Linked DNA regions of Homo sapiens. The protein of the gene in region 4 interacts with the protein of the main gene of each other region in a pairwise test. Each region holds a gene or a part of one and is shown on either strand. Other genes may lie near its edges.

Region 1 (3,324 bases), on a different chromosome or scaffold from region 4:
CAGCTTCATTCTTTTTGCTTAAGATTGTATTGGCTATGTGGGCTCTTTATTGGTTCCATATGAAATATAAAGTAGTTTTTTCTAATTCTGTGAAGAAAGTCAATGGTAGCTTGATAGGGATAACACTGAATCTATAAATTACTTTGGGCAGTATGGCCATTTTCACAATATTGATTCTTCCTATCCATGAGCATGGAATGTTTTTCCATTTGTCTGTGTTCTCTCTGATTTCCTTGAGCAGTGGTTTGTAGTTCTCCTTGAAGAGGTCCTTCACATCTGTGGGCACTAAGTCCTTTTCTCTCCCTCTCTATTCAACTGGAAATTTATCTTTCAAGGCACATTGTAAATGTTTTCTGCTTTCCAAACCTTCCCTTAGGCCTACAGGCAGAGCTGACCTCTGTGTTCCCATCTCACTGTGTGTACCCCTGGACTATTGCATTTATCTATCTGTATTTTAATCACTTGACATTGACTTCTTCCTGAGATGGTGGTCTCTTTAGGGCAAGGACTGGGCCTTTTCCACCTTTGAACCCCTCAGCACTCAACAGTGTGCCCAGGATGTGATAGTTAATAATTGTGAGTTGAATTATTAATTCAGTCACCTCTATCCACCCATTCTTCTCCCCACAGGATCGTCTCAGGAGTCGACTGGAAGCTCTGAGCACGGAGAGAGATGAGATTGAGGATGTAAAGTGTCAAGAAGACCAGAAGCTTCAAGTGCTGCTGGTACAGGCCACGTCACTGGCTACCTTTTCCTTTGAAGGTTTTCTTAAGAGACTCTGGGGAAACCCGTTGGCTGGTATCTGTTTCCTGGCTGAAAAGAACTGACAAACTGTTCTCGTTCACCTTCCTGTGGCTGCACAAAGGCATTTGGGATCTCAGACCATGAGCACTAGAAGTGGTTCTGATGTCTTGCAATCCAAGATCCATCTTGTATATCACATTTTACAGAGCAGAAAACTTAGGACCAGAAAAGCAATGCTCCCAAGGCCACATAGCAAAGCTGAAGTTCATGAGGAACCTGGATTTCTTGACCCTTAATTCATTGTTCTTTCCATCCTAGTCTGTTTGCCTGAACACACCACCTTCAGATGGGAAGCTTGGGGTCAAAAACATATGTTAGTGTCGGGATTCTAGTCCTGACTACAGGCTGACCTTGAGGAGAGTAGGCTGATGGTGTGGCTACATCTGGATCCCTCACGCCTCTCTTTTCATGCTATAAAGTTATGGAGGAATCACAGTGTGAGGATTTCTGGTACCTTGACCAAGGAGAGAGTGTGGGGACAAAGCAACCTATCCACCATCCCTCAGCTCTCATCAACGTATGCCCTGTAGTTGGTGATTTCCACGGCTAAAACCAAAATTACACACTCTCCCACTAAGTTGTGTTGACTCCAATCACAACTTCCTTTTGCCTCTAAGAAATTATTACAGTCTTCCCCACCTAACTCTAAGAAGGCATAGTAGGGTTATGATGGTATTGTAGTTGTGGAAATATTTTTGAAAAGTTCAACATCATTCTGAGAGCATAATGTAGCATTATTATTAGAGTATCTAGCTAAGACAGTAGCACAGCCCTCATCATTGGTAAGTTCATCCTGAGACCTAACTACTTCTAGGCATATTAGTAAATGGAATGAGTCTTGGACCAGTTGCTCCCTATCCCTGTTAATCAATAATAAGTATATAGATGATCATCCTGGAAGCTATCTCTGAGCCCCTTCCTAACCATGTCTGCCTTTTATCCCTTGAAGACTCAGATCGAAAGCAAGAAGCATCAGGTGGAAACAGCTTTTGAGAGGCTGCAGCAGGAGCTGGAGCAGCAGCGATGTCTCCTGCTGGCCAGGCTGAGGGAGCTGGAGCAGCAGATTTGGAAGGAGAGGGATGAATATATCACAAAGGTCTCTGAGGAAGTCACCCGGCTTGGAGCCCAGGTCAAGGAGCTGGAGGAGAAGTGTCAGCAGCCAGCAAGTGAGCTTCTACAAGTGAGAGACACTTCACCACTTTGTAGGATAAGAGAGGGACTCCACGGGGAAGGGGGTGGGCACCATGCTTTGGGCTGGAGAGAGGCAGGAAAGGGAAGTGGAGAGAGGTTAACGGGGTGCAGATCCAGAGGGGCTGGAGACTTGCCCAAGTCATACACTGTGGTCATGTTAAGGGGTTTAGGGTCAGACAGTCTTGGATTTGAATGTTGGCTCTTCCAATTGTGTGACTTGAGTGAGTCTCTTAGCCTCTCTAAACATGGGGACAGCAATAGCACCTCCCTCATAAAGTTATTGCAAAATTATAAGAAACAATCCATAAAAAATGCTTGGCATGATTCCTGATATACAGAAAGAACTCAATAACTGGTGTCTGCTATGGTTATGAATATGTGATCCTGGCTCACATCAGGTCCAGCTGATAACTGAAGGCAGGCCCCTGCTCTCTACCACCTCCTAATCATTGCAGACACAACCCACCCCCACGATAAGGCTGAAACAGGGAAACCAGCACAAATGAACTGACTACAGAAACCCAAATTAGTAAGAAAACATGATGTAAAAGAACAATCTAATGAGTAGGTAATTAAACAGGACAACTCTCTGCAGAAGGAGAGTTTTGAGTTCATATTTTAAGGGAAAAGTGATGTACAGAATCCCTGACAGGAAGGACTTATGGAAACTAAATGTATGTTCTTGTCTTTCTTTTGCAGGATGTCAGAGTCAACCAGAGCAGGTAGGGCCCACTCCCCGGTCCTGCCTCCTTTTACTCAACATCAAGACTGAATGGGAAGGGGCAGGGGCACTTACTGCCACCCACTTTGCCAGGAAAGCAAAGGCACTCTGGCAGACACACTGTCTCATTCAACTGTGCACAAACAGTCCAAACTCACTAAAGATTTGCGTTCTAAAGGTTCATTTTTAAATTGATTGGTTGGTATTGGGGACACATTTTTTCCCCTAGAAGTGAAGTTATAAATAATAATCATGTTTTTAGGTTGATCCAGGAACATTTATTTAATCTATGAAATTATTAGTACTTGAGTCAGTATCTAACACCATTTAAAATGTAATTTAAAGGGGGAATACTTTCTGTAGACTATGATAAGCATGGAAACCAGGAATACCAGCCTGTTCTTTCATTCATTCATTTTTTACACACATCTCTGGTTTCCTTCAGAATTTTCTAATGCTACTGTAAAAGGACAGCCACCAGGAGCCAGTGGCATTGTAAATGCATGGCCCTTTCCTTCCCTGTCTGCTATAAGCATTAGCAGTCTGCACTGAGATGAAGAGAGGTGTAGTGACTAGGGAACAATTGTCACGTGCTTTGTGCCTATTC
Region 2 (2,932 bases), on a different chromosome or scaffold from region 4:
TCCTGGCCTCCACAGGAGCCCACTTCAGGCAGGCCTCTGCACAAGGTCCCCTGCTCAGAGGCCTCTCCCCAGAGTCAGTTTCTATCATATCATCGTACTGTACTTTCTCTTCAAGCACTTATTTGAAACGATCTCGTTCATCTGTTTAGGTCCCATCTGCTCGCTCGCTCTCCCACTAGGATGTAGGCTCTCAGGGTCCAAGTGGCCCCCAGGCTAATACAGTGCCTAGCTCTGACATTCCTGTTGAACGAGTGAATGTTTCATCTTCCCCACTCCTAGCATTTATCATCTTCCAGAAGAAAAGAGTTTTAAAACAAAAGTTGAGAATAAAGAAAAGCAGGAGCTTCCCAAACATTTCCAAAGCTGCCTAGAAAAAGGATTTGAAAAGGTGCCACCCATAGAGAGAGCTATGGGTGGGACCACTTCTCACAATCTCCAAGAGAGATGGCTGCAGGGAGAATTCCCACAGATTCCCAGAAATAACATTTCCAAACAATGGCTCCTTCTGTAGTCGTCTTTATTTAGAGCAGAATTCAGACTCAGCTGGTATCCCCCAGGGCAACCCCAGGATGGGGAAGGGCTGGTCTGTCCCCACCCACTTCTCCAGGATCCTCCCAGCCCCCAGGCTGGCTTTCCCTCCAACTGTCAGCTGCTTAGCTGCTCATCTGGGGATTGGAGCTGGAGCATCTGTCAAGGTTGTCTCCTTGACAAACAGCTTCCTCTTTGGAAATGGCTTCACTCAGGTCCTGCAGGTCATCGAGCAGGACAGAGAGGGACCCTGGGAAGGAAGACAGCAGATGAGCACCAGACAAGGGAAGGTGCTCGTGGTTACAGAGGAAACAGGGCTGGCACAGGAAATGAGGAATGGGAGAGAGGAGGCTCTTTGGTCCAAGCTGGGCATCGCTAAAAGAGGCTAAGGGCCTCGAAGGACCGCAGAGAACAACACTCATCATGCGAGAGTCTGAAGAGGAGATTCCTGAAGTGCGCGCATTTGTCCCTTGTCCCTTTGTGCTTGGCCCAAGACCTTTTATGGACTCCCTGGTGGGCACTGCTGCTGCTACAGGTGCAGATGCTGAACACTCTGGAGGCCTGGGGCTGGACACCACAGATTTCTTCTTATCCAGTAGGGAAGGAAGAACTGTCAACAGTCGCTGCTGCTTGTAACGGGAGAGGAGACCTTCCTGCTGCAAGGTGGCCTGGGAAGGAGAGGGTTAAACCTAGCCCGGATAGAGCCTCCCTCACCATCCTCTTTCCACACCTCTAGCCCAGGAACCAGCCCAGGATGGGCCCTAGTGTCTGCCTGTCTGCCCTCCTGTCTCCTACCAGCATGAGGTTCTTATCCCTCTCTAGCTCCTGCAAGCGCCGGGCCAGTCGCTGCCCCTCCTCCTTCCGGGCCTCCTCCTGCAGACGCCTGAGTTCCTGGCTCCGCTCCTTTTCCTGGGCGGCTCTGCGCTGAATCTGGCGTAAGGAGACCACTACAGAGAGGCCAAGGCACAGAGGAGGCAGGTGTGAGTCAGGCCAGAGGCAGCCAGGCACCATGAAGACAGGAACAAACGCTGGGTCACCAACTCTGTGGCTTGGGGAGGCTGTTCTGCTCTGTGGATCTGTCTCTTCTGTACAGTTGGAGGGGTGGGCTGATGCTCTAGGAGCCTGGGAATCTGAACCTAAGTATCTTCCTCATCCCTGAACCATCCTGGAGTTCCTCAGGGGAAATCTGAACATGAACTGGGTTAGATTTTGTGCAATTAGTGTTCACTGTCTTAAAGTGTGATGATTGCAGCTATATAGGAGAATTTACTGGCTTTGGGAGATGCGGCTGAACAACTTATGTTTACAACTTACTTAGGCGTGGTGGCTCACGCCTATAATCCCAGCACTTTGGGATGCCAAGGCGGGCGGATCACGAGGTTAGGAGCTCGAGACCATCCTGGCCAACATGGTGTAATCCCGTCTCTACTGCAAATACAAAAACTAGCTGGGCATGGTGGTGGGCGCCTGTAATCCCAGCTACTTGGGAGGCTGAGCCAGGAGAATGGCTTGAACCCGGGAGGCAGAGGTCACAGTGAGCCAAGATCATGCCACTGCACTCCAGCTGGTGACAGAGGAAGACTCTGTCTCAAACAACAACAACAACAAAACATTAAATGATTACAACTTAAAGTGATTCAAAAGATGTACAAATATGTGTGTATATAGATAAGAGACCAAATGTGGCAAATGTTAACTGCTATATTTAGTTAGAGAAGATACATTCATTACACAATTCTTTTTTTGACACATGGTCTTTCTCTATCACCCAGGCTTGAGTGCAGTGGCACAATCTTGGCTCACTGCAGCCTCGACCTCCCGGGTTCATGTAGTCTTCCCACATCAGCCTCACAAGTAAGCTTGGGGTACAGGTGCCCACCACCAGGCCTAGCTAATTTTTGTATTTTTAGTCGAGACAGGGTTTCGCCATGTTGTCCAGGCTGGCCTCAAACTCCTGACCTCAGGTGATACACCCACCTCGGCCTCCCAAAGTGCTTGGATTACAGGCATAAGCCACCGCGACCGGCCATATGCTGTTTCTTAATCTGGTGCTGGCTACATGGGTGTGTTCACGATGTGATAATTCATCTGTGCTACTCCTGGATACCTTCATTACTTCCTGTAATGAAGCTTTGAACACACTTTGAGGGGAAAATAATAACCTTATGTCTTAACACTTCCTTCTTCCTGGAAGGCCCTATCCACCCTGGCAAGGCTCACCGGCCTTGGCATGCTCCCTCCGAGCCTCGTTCAGCCTCCTCTCTGTGTCTGAGAGTTGCTCCCGCAGCCGAGTTTCCACTTCAGCCACCTTTTCTTGCAGGGCTGGGGTGAAAGTGCAGACGGGGCATATCAGCAGGAGCTTTGATTCGCAGTTCCCACCCCACCCTCCAAGGGAAGCACCCAT
Region 3 (3,500 bases), on a different chromosome or scaffold from region 4:
AAGGAAGATGGACAGAGCTGTAGAGTAAAACTGTCCGGGATGGATCAATATATTGCTGACCATCCATCCATTTCAAAAGGAGGGGTGCAGAAACAGAAAGACTCACAAAAGCACAAATAATCCAAGTTATCTTACAATTGCATATAAACCTCCTTCTCATCCCATTTACATTTCTCTAAAGACCTAGCATAGGGGAATATTAAAATGAGTTTTTCCCAGAGATAATCCACATACAGCCAAGAACTGAGGACTGTGGCTGTCATCCCTTTTGTTTTCTATCCTTGTCTAGAATAGCTAAAAGTCATTCCATAAAAAAATCTTCATTTGATCTTAGTCTGAGGAGGAGAAAGGAAACTGCCTTCTAACTCCAGCCCCTAAATGCCTCATGTTCAAAAACATTTAAAGCCTCCATGCTTCTATCCCATCCTCCACTGGACAGTTTTACTCTGCAGACCTCACAAGGGGAAGAGACAATGATTCATGGATCATAGCTGTTTCTAACCCTTGATTAATGATCTTTAAACATAAGGCCAGCAGGCCCCTCAGTGACCCAGCCAGGGACTCACTGGAATTTAAAACGATTAGCTACAACAATAGCACAGTGGCAGAGCATTGCATGCGAGATGGCAGATGAAAAAAACATGCAGAGAAGAAGCATTGAATGGTCTTACTTGTGCAAACTAGTGTCCAGGCAAGGTGGTGAGGAGGGAGGATGGGGGAAGCATTAGGAAAAACTCAGGTAAGTTCAAGTGCGCCAACAGTCAATGAACACAATCAAGCATACTCCAGGATCTTCTAAACTGTAAGGAAGTACTGTTTCTCATCTCAGGAGTGTCCAGTAATATCTACCTTTTGGAGAAATGAAGCCTCTGCCAGGGCCCCATCAAACTATGGCTAGGTCATTTTTTCCCCTTTTACTGCGGGTAGTTATGCCATAAAGAGAGAAGCTAAATTGTTTCTAATGAGGTTTTTCTTAATTTACTTCCCTTATTCCAGCAGTTCAAAAGCCATGAGCAGAAAGCCTCACTGACCCAAGGCAGGCTGTGGGCCCAGGGGTTAGGGTCGGGGTGTGTGTGTGGGTGGAATTCTATTTGGGAATTAGTTTTCCAAACATTTTAAGAAAAATCTCCAAGCAAGCCTATTGCCCCAATTAACCTGGGAGTGTCTGAAGTGCAAAGAGATCTTCCCAGATTGAGGAGGAAAGGGCTACAGCCCGTGCACTTTCCTGGTCCATTCCTGTTTTAGAAGATTTTACTTCCTGCTAAAATTGTTTTAAAGGGATAGTAGAAAAATCAGGATTGGCCAGGCACAGTGGCTCATGCTTGTAATCCCAGCACTCTGGGAGGCCTAGGTGAGTGGATCACCTGAGGTCAGGGGTTTGAGACCAGCCTAGCCAACATGGTGAAACCCTGTCTCTACTAGAAATACAAAAAATTAGCCGGGTGTGGTGATGGACACCTGTAATTCCAGCTACTCAGGAGGCTGAGGCAGGAGAATCTCTTGAACTCGGGAGGTGGAGGTTACAGTGAGCTGAGATCACGCCATTGCACTCCAGCCTGGGCAAAAAGAGTGAAACTCCATCTTGAAAAAAAAAAAAATTCACGATCATCTGTAGCAAAATTTAAATCTTTTATGCTTTCCTCCCCCATCCTCCCCACTATGGGAATCGGAAAATGTTTATGTTTAAGTTAAATTAGCAATTTAAATCTTTAAGGGATGTTTGAGGACATTTTTCCTTTAGTAGCCCAATTTCTTCCACAGTGGAGGAATCACAGGAAGAAAGTTATGGAGCAGTGAGGGTCAACACAACTTGACTATTCCTTTAGACAGAAATCTGGAGACCCGGCTGGCATGGTAGCTCACGCCTGTAATCCCAGCACTTTGGGAGGCCAAGATGGATGGATCACTTGAGGCCAGGAGTTCGAGACCAACCTGGCCAACATGGTGAAACCCCATCTCTACTAAAAATACAGAAAATTAGCCAGGTGTGGTGGCACATGCCTGTAATTCCAGCTACTTGGGAGGCTGAGGCAGGAGAATCGCTTGAACCGGGGAGGCAAAGGTTGCAGTGAGACAAGATTGTGCCACTGCACTCCAGCCTGGGGGAAAGAGTGAGACTCTGTCTCAAAAACCAAAAAGAAATCTGGAGACCCCCTGAAAGGTTCCACAAGAGTCTATCCATATTGGTTGTCTCTAGGGAAGAGAACTGAGTGGTGGTAGGCAGAGGTGGGAGGCAGATTTTTCACTACTTACCCTTGAATCCTCTGTTCCCTGTGCATACATTACCTACTTTAAAAACTGATAAAATTAAAGTTGAAAATAAACTGAAGATTAAGGCGGAGAATGCTGTTGTCAGGGGTTAAGAAGGTGACTGAGGCTGGGCATGGTGGCTCACGTCTGTAATCCCAGCACTTTGGGAGGCCAAGACAGGCGGATCACGAGGTCAGGAGATCGAGACCATCCTGGCTAACACATGAAACCCCGTCTCTACTAAAAATACAAGAAAATTAGCCGGGTGTGGTGGTGGGCGCCTACAGTCTCAGCTACTCGGGAGGCTAAGGCAGGAGAATGGCGTGAACCCGGGAGGTGGAGCTCGCAGTGAGCCAAGATCACGCCACTGCACTCCAGCCTGGGCGACAGAGTGAGACTCCGTCTCAAAAAAAAAAGAAAAAAAAAGAAGGTGACTGAAAATCTCATGGTTCAGCCACAAGACAGGTCATGTGCACTGTCACTTGTACTAGGTCTTGGGCAGGTAGGCAGGAAACAGACAGGCTGCTGGTGAGATCCCAGGCCTCACGGACATGACATTTCTAGATTATCTAAGCATACAATTCACTGCTCCTCAAATTGCATATTTACGTCAGTATTAAAAGCAGTGGCAGAGCCATTACTCAGCTGACTTCCCAAAAGCTGCAAGCCCCATAGGGACATGCGGGGGCCAGAGACATTAGCTGACATCAGGAAACATCTTGGCTCTTCGGGCCCCTGAAGTGGCTGAAGGTCTGCCCACCCCATTCCTCCCTAGTGACAGAGAGTCACTTAGCTGAGCCTTAGGTGACAGAAACAATTCAGCTCTTCTTGTATTTGCCATTCAGCTCATATGCACTTCTATACTGGCATCCTGGGCAACATGCCACAGGAAATGAACACTCACAGTATCCTCTCCTCATCAGCCACCCCACTAGATGCTACTAAAATAGGCTGTTCAGGCTCTGGGGGAGAAACAGCCAATCAGAGCTGCACAGTCAGGTTCTTCCACACCTGGAATGGGTGTCATCTCCTTTTTATTAAGAGATATCCCAGTATCTTCAAAAGGGAATGACAATATGTATTTTTTTGTTTAGAAAGAGGATTACTGTGAAACTACCTGTTTGTATCACAGCGACAAAAGGACTGAGTTCTATTCATTATCTCACCATGAAGGGCAGAAGCCTAGGCCTAAGTTGAACAGTCTGAACTGTGGTAGTGCAGTAAAGTTCTCAGCATACAGCTGTCTCTTG
Region 4 (3,500 bases):
TGGAGTCTGCAATTCAAGAGAGGATTAGAATGACCTAGATATTCTCCAAGGTTTCTCTGTATGTGAAGGTTATTACTCCATTAATTCAGGAGGATCTAAAGATTTTAGACCTAGAGACTAAATATGCCAAATCAGTCTGAGGTCTCACATTGCTACAGGATGGACGGCTCTTCATGCACTACAGATTTCAAATGGGGTCTTCTCATACTCATTCAGCTACTGCTCTAGGGTTACATGAAAGAAATCAAGTCTAATCCTTTTCCCTAACAAGCTCAAGGCTGGAACAGACAAAAAGGTAAGTAAACAACTGCTACAGAATGGGACAGCTGCTACATCAGAGAGTAAAAGTTGAGTGCTGTGAGAACACAGGAAAGAACAACTCAATCTGCTGGGGGAGTCTGACGAGGCTTTACAACGGTGATGTTTGGGTGAGGTCTTAAAGGATAAATAGGATCCTTTTTTTGGTTGTTTTTGAGACAGAGTGTCACTCCATCGCCCAGGCTGGAGTGTAATAGCATGGTATCAGCTCACTACAACCTCTGCCTCCCGAGTTCAAGCAATTCTCATCCCTCAGCCTCCCAAGTTATTGGGACTACAGGCGCACACCACCACACCTGACTAATAAGGCTGAATAGGATTCTAAGTGAAAGGACATTCCAGAAAGAAGGAACTACAAATGTGCAAGCCTGTGGTTTGCTTCACAACAAGCTGAATGTAGCCAGAGCACTGGGCGTGTGATGAACTGTGATGCTGGATATACAGGAAGGCTCCAGAGGGTAGGGAATCTTGATTGCTGAGCCCACTATTCTGGATTTCATCATGTGGTAGGGAAGCAAGAAAGACTGTAAATCCAAGGAGTTATCGCTGTCAGATCTGTACTTTAGAAAGATCATGCAGGTAGCTGTGTGAACAACTTGAAGGGTAGAGAAACTAGAGACAGGAACAAGAAGTAAGAGTATATTATAAAGGTTTAAGTAAAAGAAAATAAGCACCTGGAAAATAGGAGTACAAAAGGTAAAATTCAAAAGACTTTTCTGAGTTGGAAGAAATAGAACTTGGTCAAGTTGTAGCTAGCATGGGAGATAAAAGAGAAATCAAGAATGAAACCAAGGTTTTTTAGCTAACTTGGTAAGTAGTGATGCCATTAATTGACTCAGGAGAAGGGTTAGGAGGAAAATGTTCAGAATGCGGAGAATAATAAATAAAAGCAATAAATTTGGCTTTGGATTAGCTGCATGTGAACCACCTGTATTAATTCCCAAACACAGGCCAGGTGCAGTGGCTCACGCCTGTAATCCCAGCACACTGGGAGGCCAAGGCGGCCGGATCACTTGAGCTCAGGAATTTGAGACCAGCCTGGGCAACATGGTGAAACCCTGTCTCTACATAAAATACAAAACTTAGCTGGGCATGGTGGCATACTTCTGTAGTCCTAGCTACTTGGGAGGCTGAAGCAGGAGGATCACTTGAGCCCAGGAAGCAGAGGTTGCAGTAAGTTGAAATTGCACCATTGCACTCCAGCCAGGGTAACAGAGCAAGACCCTGTCTCAAAAACAAACAAACAAACAAAAAGCACAAGCACTATCTAAAAGACAATGATTTTCCAAGTATGATTCCCCAGACAGCAGCGCAGCATCACCAGGCAACTTGTCAGAAATGCAAATTCTCTAGTCTTACTCCCAAGCCACTAAAATCAGAGACTCTGTGGGTAAGGTCCAGCAATCACTGCTTTTACAAGCTTTCCGAGAGATTTAGCAGGGTCACAATTAAAAGCAGTAAGAAATAGAAACAAAAATCACAGGTGGAGGTGCTAAGTCTGAGGGTGGAATCGGGACCCCTCTTTCTCTGGGACAGACAAGAAGTTAATATAAAGGTACTAGGACATTTTTATGTGGTGAGGGGAGGAAGCTGAGGGAGTTTGTGCCTAGTGGCCTCTACTCTGTTTTTGAAACAGGATCTGCTACTGACAGCATCAGGCATGCAGTGGAAACCCTGAGGAGATCATTCATGTTCTCGGCTAAAATTTTCTCTCTTTGATTGAACACAGTCACTGAAAGCAATGTGTAATTTCTAATTCTCTGAGTTCACTACAAATGACAGCAAAGGAGTCACTCAACAAATATTGGCTGACTGGATGAAAAAAAAAAAACAAACAACTAGCTAGAGGAGTTGGCAGAATTCCATTTGACTTTCTTCTGTTGAAGCAGTTTTAGAATTCTAGAATGCTCTGGCAAAGAATTAACATTATTCATGGCATTTTATTAGTTCCTATGCTCACTAGCCATCCCATCATTTATTTATTTATTTATTTATTTTTTTTTGAGACAGAGTCTCACTCTGTCTCCCAAGCTGGAGTGCAGTGGCATGATCTCAGCTCACTGCAACCTCCGATACCTGGGTTCAAGCAATTCTCCTGCCTCAGTCTCCCAAGTAGCTGGGATAACAAATGCGTACCACCATGCCCGGCTAACTTTTTTAATATTTTTAGTAGAGAGGGGGTTTCACCATGTTGGTCAGGCTGGTCTCGAACTCCTGACCTCAGATGATCCTCCTGCCTCACCCTCCCAAAGTGCTAGGATTACAGGCGTGAGCCACTGCGCCCGGCCCATCGTTTAATTTTTAACATCATTATATTTCCGGATAATACCAAATGCTAACCTAATTTTTAAATATAAGTTAAATTTCTACAATGCAATGACTATGTATACAAGTCAACAGATTTCTACTACTGTGTTTTATCACTGAGCTAGATGCCATGCTAAATATATATTAAAAGAATGAGGGAAATAATGCTTGATGAGTGCCATTTCCAAGCCCTGCAGTGGGTACGTCAAATTTATTAGCTCATTTAATCTTCACCAGGAAATATGCCTATCTCCATTCTTCCACTCCAAGGAGCTTATTGTCTACATTTGAGAACTAAAACTAACACAACCCAAAGAAAATAATCAGAAGACAAACACAAAATGAAGAAACTACTGAAAGCTGTTCATTAAAAGCTGACTGAGAAGAAGAGAGGAAAACATCCTTTTCCTTAATATTAAACTGACTTGCTGATAGCTCAAAGCAGAAGTGAAAAAATGTATTTAGACGGTGACAGAACTATGTATCCAGTCACGTCACTGTTCAACCGCCCCTAGTTAAGTCCTTTTACCGCTCCGCCAGCTCCCAGTCCTCCTGAATCTGCTTCTGCCTGGCTTTGTGGTACTCTTCCCTCCAGCACTTGGAGCAGAAACCCTGCCAGGCAGGGTTGCCGTAGTAACCACATCCTTTCTTGCACAGGAGATCCGATTGATCCACATGAATTCCTCGGCGTTCAGACTTAAGGCTCATCTTCTTCCTGCTAACCACTGAACAAACAAGAAAGTGCTGTTGAAAATGAATTATCATTCTACTAAATAAAATCTTACCAATTATGAACAAAAAGTGAGTGATTCCATTATCTTCAAGCTGTTAAGAGAGGGATGGAGGGAATGAAGGAGGGAGGGAGAAAGAGGAGG
Region 5 (3,500 bases), on a different chromosome or scaffold from region 4:
TTACAGTTTTGATTACGTGGGAACTCCAGACTTTTAAGGAAGTAAAACCGTCAAAACTAAATTCAAAAAGGACAATAAATAAAGGGGATAGTCTAATACTAAATATTACATAGTATTTACTACATATAATATTATATACTTTAATTACACACTATAATATATAAATATGTTGCTATTCAAAGAGGGCAGCCAGGGTATTTTATAGCATTTGAATTTTACCAGCAAATAAACTTTTACATTAAGTCCCTATCCACGAATTATTTTTTCTTTAAACCAGAATTAAACCAAAACTAATAATCAGACCATAATACGATTTCAAGGGTTTAACCTTTAGCTCTTATTTAAATTGTTACCATGGTAGCATGGTTGATTTTTAAAATGCATCTTTCTTGAATTTGTTTTTAGAAATAAAATTTTGATACAGGGTCAAGCAAAGAAATGAGGTCTCAGGATCAGAAGACATCTTCTAGAGTAAAACTAGGAAAATGGGCTCTTTTAAGAAAACTATCCCAATATCCATTCATTTTCTAATGCTACAGATACTATATTCCATTTTATGAACATGCCCCAAGTTATCCATGTCCTACACAGAGATATTTGTCTTCCCACTCTTTGCTCTGACAATGTTAAATGAACATTCTTGCACCTGTCTCCTTGTAGATGAACTGATTTCTTTAGGCACTGGGCCTTCAAACTTCCACTGCAACCCACAATAAGAAATTCATTTTACACTGCAACCCAGTACACACATATATGCAAGTATATGTACAGATATATATAAGTAAAGCTAATGCTTCACAAAAGTATATTTCCTATTTCATTTAAAAAATGCTAGTTGAAATTACTAAATTGACTTTACAAACCACCAATGATTCTCAAACTTAGTTTTTAAAAACACTATTCTGATCAACACACCTACTAGTGGGGCACAGACATCTTTAACATTCAGATAGAGTGACTGTGCCATCAGACTCCTACCAGCAGCACTGGCAAATTATTTTTATCCATAATTCTTATAAAATCTGGGTATTTTTAAATTACTGAATCTCTTAGCTGGAAACTGCTTGCTGTAGTTTTTAACTGTACTTCCAGTTACTAGTGAAGTTCCCCGTCTTCTCAGAGGTTTATTAAGGTTTCTACTTCTGAATCTGACTATTCATTTGTACATTTTTCTACTGGGTTGATTCACTCTCACAGATTTGGCAGGAATCAATCATGTTAGAATTTTATCTATTTTTCCTGGTTTTTGTTTTTATTGATCTTCTCTTTTGATTTTGTTATCTTCTCTATTGTTTGTTGTCTATTTTACTGATTTCTAATCTTATTTTACTTTCTACTTCTATGAGTTTACTTTTCTTCTGAATGACTCTCAGTGTCAGACTCTTATTAGCTTGGTTTTTAGATTTCATTCTTTTTGAAAGTGTAAACACTTAAGGCTATACATTTCTCTTCTGTGTTCTACTGAGTTAGATCTCAAAAGTCTGAACATGTAGTGTTTTCATTATTATTTAGCTCTACATTTTCCAATTTCCATTATGACTTCTTTGATTCAAGGGTTATTTAGAAGTGTGTTTAAAGGAGTTGTAAGTATTTTTGCTTTTGCTATTCACACATAATTTACAAAAACTTGTGGTTTCTGTAAGACCAAGCCTGTTAATTATTTTGTTAAATTCTAAATGTATTACACTAAGTTTTTTCCACCAAATTTATTAAATTCTGAGAAAGGTCTGTCAAAATCCTACTAGATGGTAGGTTTTCTGGGTGGTGGTGGATGGTGAAAACTGACCCTGGGTCAACTTCTCATTCTAATTTTGTCAAATTTTTGAGAACACATTCTTAGAAAATAAAGTTTAAAATGTGTATATTTCTATTTTTTCCTTTTATCTTTATGCAATGATTGCCTTTATTTTTAATAATGCTTTCTGCTTTTAAGCCTTTTCTGCCTGATATCAATATAACTATGCCTTTTAAAAATTACGTCTTTTAAAAGTTCTTTCAGTTTCAACCTTTCCATATCTTTATTTTTAAGGTATATTTCTTATAAACATATAGATGGATCTTTTTTTTTTTTTTTTTTTTGAGACGGAGTCTCGCTCTGTCGCCCAGGCTGGAGTGCAGTGGTGCGATCTCGACTCACTGCAAGCTCCGCCTCCCAGGTTCACGCCATTCTCCTGCCTCAGCCTCCCAAGTAGCTGAGACTACAGGCGCCTGCCACCACACTTGGCTAATTTTTTGTATTTTTAGTAGAGACGGGGTTTCACCGTGTTAGCCACGATGGTCTCTATCTCCTGACCTCATGATCCGCCCGCCTTGGCCTCCCAAAGTGCTGGGATTACAGGTATGAGCCACCGCGCCTGGCCGATAGATCTTTAAAATATAACACCAATTTCTGTCTTTGAGCCAGAAAGTCCATTTCCATTTATATTTGAATTTAACCATACTGTTTTGTACTTTCTGTTGTGTTTTCTGTGCTTTTTTCCTCCTCTCCTACCTTCTAATTTACTTGCTTAAATTTTCTGTATTTACTTTTACCCCTCAATTTATTTAAAAATTACATATTCCATTTCTTTCACATACTTTACAAGCATGTTTGACTTAAACCATAACATTCTTTAATTCTGACCACCCCTTCTTGTCTTACATGTCACTTTTATCAAGTTTACCTTTTAAAATAACCCTAAATAATAATTATTACTATTTTATAACAGTGAATTCTTGATAAGATTTATTCAGATTTCTTCATGTTTACCAAAGTGTCTACACAGTAATCCTTTCTGCAATTTACTCCTTTCTGGGTTCAGTTTCCTTAAGACAGCTTTTTTACTGGGGACTGTTGATAATTTCTCATAGTTTTAGTCAATCACTCAACCACAACTGTTTAACTTGTTACAGAATTTTTTAGTTGAAATGTTGAAAAAGCAAGTAATACTTCTAGAAATGAGAAAATATAGTCATTGAATTTACAAAACGAGCAGGTTTAACAGCAGTCTGGACATAGGGAAAGTAAGAATTACTGGATTAATGATTAAGAAATCACCCAGAAAGCAATACAGAAGGAGCAAGAGTTGGAAACGATGAGTTAATGATAGTTGAGGAGGTCCAGCAAACATCTAATGGCAGAAAGAAATAATAGAGAATGTGAAAGACATTTTCAAGCACTCATCCCACTGTCTTCTGATTTTTGTTGTTCTTGAAGTCAACTGTTAGTTTAACTTTGCTCCTTTGTAGGTTGTCTGTTTTTTCTCTCTGGTGACTTTATTATCATGTACAGAGATATGGATTTATTTGGTTTATCCTCCTTAAGTATTATACTTCTTGAACCTATGAATTCATGCCTATTCTTAATAATTAACTCAATTATTGCCTCTTTCCCATTCTCTATTATTTCTTTCTGCCATCAGATGTTTGCTGGACCTCCTCAACTATCATTAAGTCATCGTTTCTAACTCTGCTCCTTCTGTATTGCTTTCTGGGTGATTTCTTAATCATTAATTAACCCA
Region 6 (3,500 bases), on a different chromosome or scaffold from region 4:
GGGCAGGGATGGGAAGGGCAGCTTAGGTCTGTCTCCCTCACTTCAAGGGAGCTCATCAAAGTACTTAGGAATACAAAGGAGCTATCTGAAAAGAACAGGTTCAATCTAAGCATAATGACCTTTTTTTGTTTTTTTGAGACAGAGTCTCACTCTGTTGCCCAGGCTTGAGTGCAGTGGTGCAATCTCGGCTCACTGCAACCTCCACCTCCTGGGTTCAAGCAATTCTCCTGTCTCAGCCCCCCGAGTATCTGGGATTACAGGTGTGCACCACCATGCCTGGCTAGTTTTTGTTGTTGTTGTTCTTGTTTTGAGAGAAGTCTCGCTCTTGTCCCCCAGGCTTGAGTGCAACGGCTTGATCTCAGCTTATTGCAACCTCCACCTACCAGGTTCAAATGATTCTTCTGTCTCTGCCTCCCAAGTAGCTGGGATTAAGGCGCCTGCCACCACACCCGGCTAATTTTTGTATTTTTTAGTAGAGACAGGGTTATACCACATTGGCCAGGCTGGTCTCAAACTCCTGACCACAGGTGATCCGCCCGCCTCAGCCTCCCAAAGTGCTGGGATTACAGGTGTGAGCCGCCACGCCCGGCCATGTCCGGCTAGTTTTTGTATTTTTAGTAGAGATGGGGTTTCACCATGTCATTCAGGCTGGCCTCAAACTCCTGACCTCAGGTGATCCGCCTGCCTTGGCCTCTCAAAGTGCTGGGATTATAGGCGGGAGCCACCGCACCTGGCCGATCTTTTTAAAAATTAAGAGATTTAGTGTTAATTGAAGATGCTGAGGAATGCAACCTCAATTAGATTTAAATACAAAAACAAAAACCTCCACCTCTCTGTATGTAAATACATCTAGAAAGATGTGAACTAAACAGGCACCTCTGGGGATAGACAGAGATTGCAGGTGCTGGTCAAGGGGGTGATCTCACTTTGTGTTGTGCTGCTTTTTAAGTAACACAGTTACTGAAAAATAATTTGATGTTTTGATACCTGTATCTATCCATCTATGTATACACACAGACACTGGGAAAGGATCCTTACGGTCAAGCTAATTAACATATCCATCACCTCACAGTTGGTTTTCATGGTGACAACACTTAAGATTGGCTCTCTTAGCAAATTTCAAGAATACAATATGGTATCATCAGCTGTGATCAACATGATGGACACTACTCCCAGATCTCCCAACCGAGGGATGTATCCTTTGACCAACATCTCCCCTTTCCCCCAACCCCTCACTGTCTTCATTCTTACGAGAATGCACTCATATACTAAGCAATGGAAGGCCTTTTTTACAAAAGAGGCTAAGAAAGATGTCAGGCTGTCTCTTCAGACTTACCAGCTCCTCTTGGATCTGCTGTGTGCGTCTGCTGAGTTGAGCGTTATACTGATGTCTCAAGAAACGCCTGAAGGAGAATCAAATGTGGGCTGCCTTCAGTATCTCAGAAAGAATTAAATAGAAGTTAGATAACTGCTGACCAGGCTGTCTCCTTTATGGTTTCAGCAACACGAATGCAAGTCTGAAAAAGCAAGAGGCCCACCCGCCTGGGAAGAGTGGGGGGCCCTTCTGACACACACCCCAGCTCTGCCTTCTGCCGGAAGGCTTCCATCTGCTTTCGCTCTTCCTCCAGCCTCTCTAGCTCCCACCGCTGCTTCAACAGATTCTCCTGCTCCTTCTTTAGTTTGGTCGCCTGTGGTGATGATGAGAGTAAGCTCGACTGAGATCTGAGATCGTGGGAATCAGATCTTCCTTCATTCTCCATCTCCATTTTTCGCAGACACTACACCAACAGAGGCCTGGCCATGCAGGTGGTCACGATCCCCTCCCACCACTCACTTACTCATCCAATCCCCTCTGAGCCATTTCCTGCAAGGGCCTTTCTGAGCCCTGAACTCTAAACTCCCACAGGATCCTGTACTGGTCCACTCTTACTGTAACTTAACAACTGTCCTCCACCTGACACAGCCCCCACCAGGAGGTCAGGACTGTGGGCCTTGGTCAGGCTCTATCTCTAGTTCCCAACCCAGTGCTCAGCACCTAGAATAAGCAGTAGGCACTAAGAATGTAGTTGCTAAATCACGGCCTGGGCAAGGGGAAGTGAGGTCACAGGAGCATGGGCCTCCCTCTTCTAAATAGAAAGATCTCTTTCAAGGAAACTGTGCCATGTTCTCCAAAAACAGCCCCTGGACCAAAAACCCTCAGTTATGCCTCGAGACCCGAAACCTGCTCCCCACGGAGAGCTGGGTGCTAGACCACCCGATTAAATTGTGTCTACTCAGTGCACTGGAAAATCCAGATTCTAAGAAGGTTCTCCAACAGCAGGCCGCTAACCACCTCTAAGAGAACAGCTACTGGCTCCATGTCGTTAATGTTCTGGAATTCAGGCACGCAAACGAGGAGGATGGGAAAGCACAAGGCAGATGGGGATGCATGTGAGAGGGAGAACCCGGCTGCTGCCGCCCTTTGCAGAATCTCAGCCCTGCTATGGCCTCTTCTTAGGGCAGCCTCTCAAGTGCCCATCTCATGCTAACGAGCAGCTGTGGAGGAGGTCACGGCTGAGAGGGGCTTGTGCCCACCTCCACCTCCTTCAGCTTCAGCTCCTCCATCTGTTGCAGCAGTGCCTCGGCCTGGAGCTTGTCCTCCAGCTGCCTCCTCTCCTCTTCAGCTTTCATCCTTTCTAGCGCCTCCCTTCGGGCCCTTTCATATTCATTTTCATACCGTTTGTTCTCTTGCTCTGCGGTGGCTTCTTGCTACAAGGGACCAAATGAACACAGGTCAATATCTGTACCGTAAGCCAACAAAAACCTAGCTTCCTGCCGCCGTTCTGCAGGCCACAGGGCCCAGGCAGTTCCTGCCTGAATCCCAAATGACAACGCCCTCAGACGCCAAGTCAGGGAGGGACTCAATAATGTTGGGTTTCCTCCCCACTCAACAAAACACTTTCTAAAATGAACCAGGCAGCAAAGCGACCAGTGCACAGAGGTGTGGAAGCTTAACCCCAAAGGGGTTACAGTAAGCCAGGGCTGCGAGTTTACGATGCAGATTTCATCAAAAGAGAGACAAAAATGCCCTTAAAGACACACGTCCTAGCTGGACCCTGTGGCCCACGCCTGTAATCCCAGCACTTTGGGAGGCCGAGGTGGGAGAATCGTTTAAGGCCAGGAGGCCAGACCAGCCTGAGCAACAGAGCAAGACCCCATCTCTACAAAAATTAAAAAATTAGCTGGGCGCAGTGGTGCGTACCTGTGGTCCTAGCTACTCGGGAGGCTGAGTTAGGAGGACTGCTTGAGCCCAGCCAGTCGAGGCTGCAGTGAGCTGTGAGTCGCGCCACTGCACACCAGCCTGGGTGACAGAGCAAGACCCTGCCTCCAAAAGAAAAAAAGAAGACGCGTGCTGTATGTGCCACCTCCCAGCCCTGGTCACCTGGCCTTATTCTGCCCTGGGAATTATCACATAGGATTCTGGTATATGTAAGAGCAAACATTCAGTTTTCACATGTGTC
Region 7 (2,786 bases), on a different chromosome or scaffold from region 4:
CTTCCCAACTTTCTAACTGCATTTCTCATCAAACTCCTTTTACTTGTTTCAAGCAGACTGGGTTCATCCATGCTACTAGAACAGATTATTCAATTACACACTTTTCTTCAAACCACCACTGCCCACTTCCAAGAGCAACCTAATGATTTGTCTTATCCTACCCTTAGGCAAATCCCAGGGCTAAGATGGTAATTTAAATGGGTCCTATAAGAAGTATTAATTTTAGGTTGCTTGTTGGGAAGGCTCATAATTGGGCAAGCAGGCGGGCAAGTTGTCTTGCTCTCCTATCCTGACCAATTTGTTCTATCCTGACCAATTTAAGTGGGTCCCTCTTCTCGGAAACATTCCTCAAGTATCAGGGCCCACAATAATCTCTCCCTTCTTAACTCAAGAACAGAATTTTCTAATAAGCGCATGTTTGTCATACTAATAATTACCTATGTTTGTAAGTGCACACGATTTATCTGTACATGGTTCTTAAACTGAAGAAGGGTCACTTATGCCAATTTTAACATAGAACTTTATTGAAAACACAGACTCAAATAGAGAACCATATATTTAAACAACGAATAGCAGGGTAGCTTACTTAGGTGACACAGTTCATTGAAAACTTAATACTGAAAAATACCGCAATCTGGACAGCAAGACAAATATCAACAAATGTGTTTTCAGTTTTGATATTCATTTGGCATCCACAAAATGATCCAGCTCAAAACAAGAGTTTGACAAAGTTAACATCAGCATTAAAAAATATAAGTTACAACAAAAAAACAGACTGTGAACACCAAAGCACTACTCAGGGCTCTTTGGGAACATAAGGCTGATCAGCGGCAGGTGGTTAATCATATTAACTTTGTTGTCCCACCTCAGGATCATTTTGGTTGTCTATTTGGGCTTGTAGTTGCTTAGCTAACTCCTCAAATTCACGAAATGCAGAAATAAGCGGCTCAAGACTGAAATCATCATCAATTAAGGACATCTTTCCACTTTTTATAATGTTACTGATATTCTGAAACATTTTAATAACAATTTGAATATTATCATTTGTCTCTTCTATGTTAAAGAGACCCACAAATATTGAAAGAGCTTTGGCACTGAATAGTTTTTTTGCCACAGCAGGATTTTCAGACAAATTCAATAGCATTTTCAGAACGTGAAACTTCGTTCTCGCATTGGCTGTGGTTAATAAGGAGAGAAACCCGGACATATAGTTGGCAATCAGTGTGTGATAGTCAATAGTCATAGTGAGGTGTCTAAGCATCCTTATTCCAGTCAGCTGCTCAAGGGAATCCACACTATGTGCAAGGGTTTCCTCACACACTTGACATATGAATGTCTCAATCATGTTTAGATTTGGATAAGGTGGAGCCATGTGAATCATATTTTCCAAAAAACTTGTCCTAACTCTAGAGGATGGATAATTAAGCAAGGTTTCAATAAGTGAGACAACACCTGAATCTCGAATGAAATCTCGGGTAAATTGAGAAGCACTTCTCATACCCATTGCAATTTTAGATATTTCATGAATAAAAGGATCCCGAATTTTGTCCATTAATAAAAGGAATTCTTCAAACTCTTCAGAACCAATTTTCAGCTCACATTGTATGCAGCTGCAGGACCAACTCTCAGACTCTGCACTCTCCCTGGCCCTAAGATGCTCTCGAATTTCCCGGACTGACCGGTAGGAAGGATCATACTGAAATGTGAACTCAGGACTAGGCTGATCAGGCTGAAGCAAAGATTCCTGCTCTTCTCCTTCTGGGCTAAGTTCCAGGTTCTTGGGCTTTGCCTCAAGCATTTCAGAAGCCTCTTCGGGAATTCCAAAGGGGCTTGTGGATCGGAAGCCAACCCCATGAAAAAGACCAGGTTTGAATTCAACAGTGACCTCGTCCCAGGTTTGGGGCCTGGAGGATGCATTAAGCTCCTCAGCTGCATCTCTGAACCTATCACTGACCTTGTACACAGGACAGGGATTTAGGTCAAAGCAGGCCTCATCTCTGTCCCAGAACCAGGACCCAAATATGGCCTCTTCTTCAGACTCCGGCTTGGCCTCTTCTCTGGCCACAGCCCCCAAACTGGACTTTTCCTCAGCCCAGTACGCGGATCCGCCAATGGCCCCCTCCTCAGTTCCTGGCTCAGATTCACAGATTGCTGAAGCTCCACCCTCCAAACTGGCCTCTTTTTCTGCCCAGAACCAGGACCCAATAATGACTTCCTCCTCAAACCTGGGTTCTTGTTTGACCCTATCACTGTCAACATCTTTCTGGGCCCTGAGTTTCAAGGCAGTATTAGGATCTTCTTTGTCTCTGTGCCTGAATCTACTATTGGCCTCTTCTCCAGGCAAAACCCAGGACTGCTTATAGAACTCATCTTCAGACTCAGATTCAAAACAATCTTCTCTATTTGTCCTGAGCTTGGACCTGATATTTGCCTCCTCCCTGACTCTGGGCCTGAACAAGTTATTGGTATTTTCTCCAACCCAGAAGGAGAATGGGTTGCTGGCCTCATCCTCAGATCCAGACCAGGAATCAACATAGGCTTCTTGCTTGGATCTGGGCCTGGACCTGGGATTAGTCTGATGTTTAGCCCTGTGCCTGGACCTGGTATTGGACTCTTCCCTGGGCCATGATCTGACACTTGTCTCTTCTCCAGTCCAGAAAGAAGACGCTGTAGAGGTCTCATCTGCTGACCAGAACCCAGACTCATTAGAGGCCTCCTCTCTGGCCCTGGGCCTGGAATAGCACCAAGACCCCATATTAGTCTCCTCCCCTGGTCCAAACCAGGGC

The links.
Region 1: the proteins of RABGEF1 (region 4) and TRIM15 interact in binary tests that used the Homo sapiens proteins (3 or more experiments, as listed by UniProt).
Region 2: the proteins of RABGEF1 (region 4) and CCHCR1 interact in binary tests that used the Homo sapiens proteins (3 or more experiments, as listed by UniProt).
Region 3: the proteins of RABGEF1 (region 4) and DCTN2 interact in binary tests that used the Homo sapiens proteins (3 or more experiments, as listed by UniProt).
Region 5: the proteins of RABGEF1 (region 4) and THOC1 interact in binary tests that used the Homo sapiens proteins (3 or more experiments, as listed by UniProt).
Region 6: the proteins of RABGEF1 (region 4) and TCHP interact in binary tests that used the Homo sapiens proteins (3 or more experiments, as listed by UniProt).
Region 7: the proteins of RABGEF1 (region 4) and GPRASP2 interact in binary tests that used the Homo sapiens proteins (3 or more experiments, as listed by UniProt).

What each region holds. Positions count from the first base shown.
Region 1 is NC_000006.12:30,166,546-30,169,869, forward strand, and holds part of TRIM15 (E3 ubiquitin-protein ligase TRIM15), read left to right. Parts: intron 1-630; coding exon 631-726; intron 727-1,754; coding exon 1,755-1,985; intron 1,986-2,695; coding exon 2,696-2,718; intron 2,719-3,324.
Region 2 is NC_000006.12:31,141,939-31,144,870, forward strand, and holds the end of CCHCR1 (coiled-coil alpha-helical rod protein 1), read right to left. Parts: intron 2,851-2,932; coding exon 2,749-2,850; intron 1,476-2,748; coding exon 1,324-1,475; intron 1,197-1,323; coding exon 1,025-1,196; intron 779-1,024; coding exon 654-778; 3' UTR 501-653; downstream 1-500. UniProt on the Homo sapiens protein: May be a regulator of keratinocyte proliferation or differentiation.
Region 3 is NC_000012.12:57,540,693-57,544,192, forward strand, and holds part of DCTN2 (dynactin subunit 2), read right to left. Parts: intron 2,299-3,500; exon of another isoform or gene 2,284-2,298; coding exon of another isoform or gene 2,254-2,283; intron 681-2,253; coding exon of another isoform or gene 672-680; intron 1-671. UniProt on the Homo sapiens protein: Part of the dynactin complex that activates the molecular motor dynein for ultra-processive transport along microtubules. In the dynactin soulder domain, binds the ACTR1A filament and acts as a molecular ruler to determine the length.
Region 4 is NC_000007.14:66,771,733-66,775,232, reverse strand, and holds part of RABGEF1 (rab5 GDP/GTP exchange factor), read right to left. Parts: intron 3,351-3,500; coding exon of another isoform or gene 3,334-3,350; coding exon 3,155-3,333; intron 1,543-3,154; coding exon of another isoform or gene 1,406-1,542; intron 7-1,405; coding exon 1-6. UniProt on the Homo sapiens protein: Rab effector protein acting as linker between gamma-adaptin, RAB4A or RAB5A. Involved in endocytic membrane fusion and membrane trafficking of recycling endosomes. Stimulates nucleotide exchange on RAB5A. Can act as a ubiquitin ligase.
Region 5 is NC_000018.10:219,548-223,047, forward strand, and holds part of THOC1 (THO complex subunit 1), read right to left. Parts: intron 1-3,500. UniProt on the Homo sapiens protein: Component of the THO subcomplex of the TREX complex which is thought to couple mRNA transcription, processing and nuclear export, and which specifically associates with spliced mRNA and not with unspliced pre-mRNA.
Region 6 is NC_000012.12:109,906,774-109,910,273, reverse strand, and holds part of TCHP (trichoplein keratin filament-binding protein), read right to left. Parts: intron 2,749-3,500; coding exon 2,575-2,748; intron 1,689-2,574; coding exon 1,576-1,688; intron 1,404-1,575; coding exon 1,337-1,403; intron 1-1,336. UniProt on the Homo sapiens protein: Tumor suppressor which has the ability to inhibit cell growth and be pro-apoptotic during cell stress. Inhibits cell growth in bladder and prostate cancer cells by a down-regulation of HSPB1 by inhibiting its phosphorylation.
Region 7 is NC_000023.11:102,715,448-102,718,233, reverse strand, and holds the end of GPRASP2 (G-protein coupled receptor-associated sorting protein 2), read right to left. Parts: coding exon 848-2,786; 3' UTR 501-847; downstream 1-500. Other genes in the region: ARMCX5-GPRASP2 (G-protein coupled receptor-associated sorting protein 2), read right to left, coding at 848-2,786. UniProt on the Homo sapiens protein: May play a role in regulation of a variety of G-protein coupled receptors.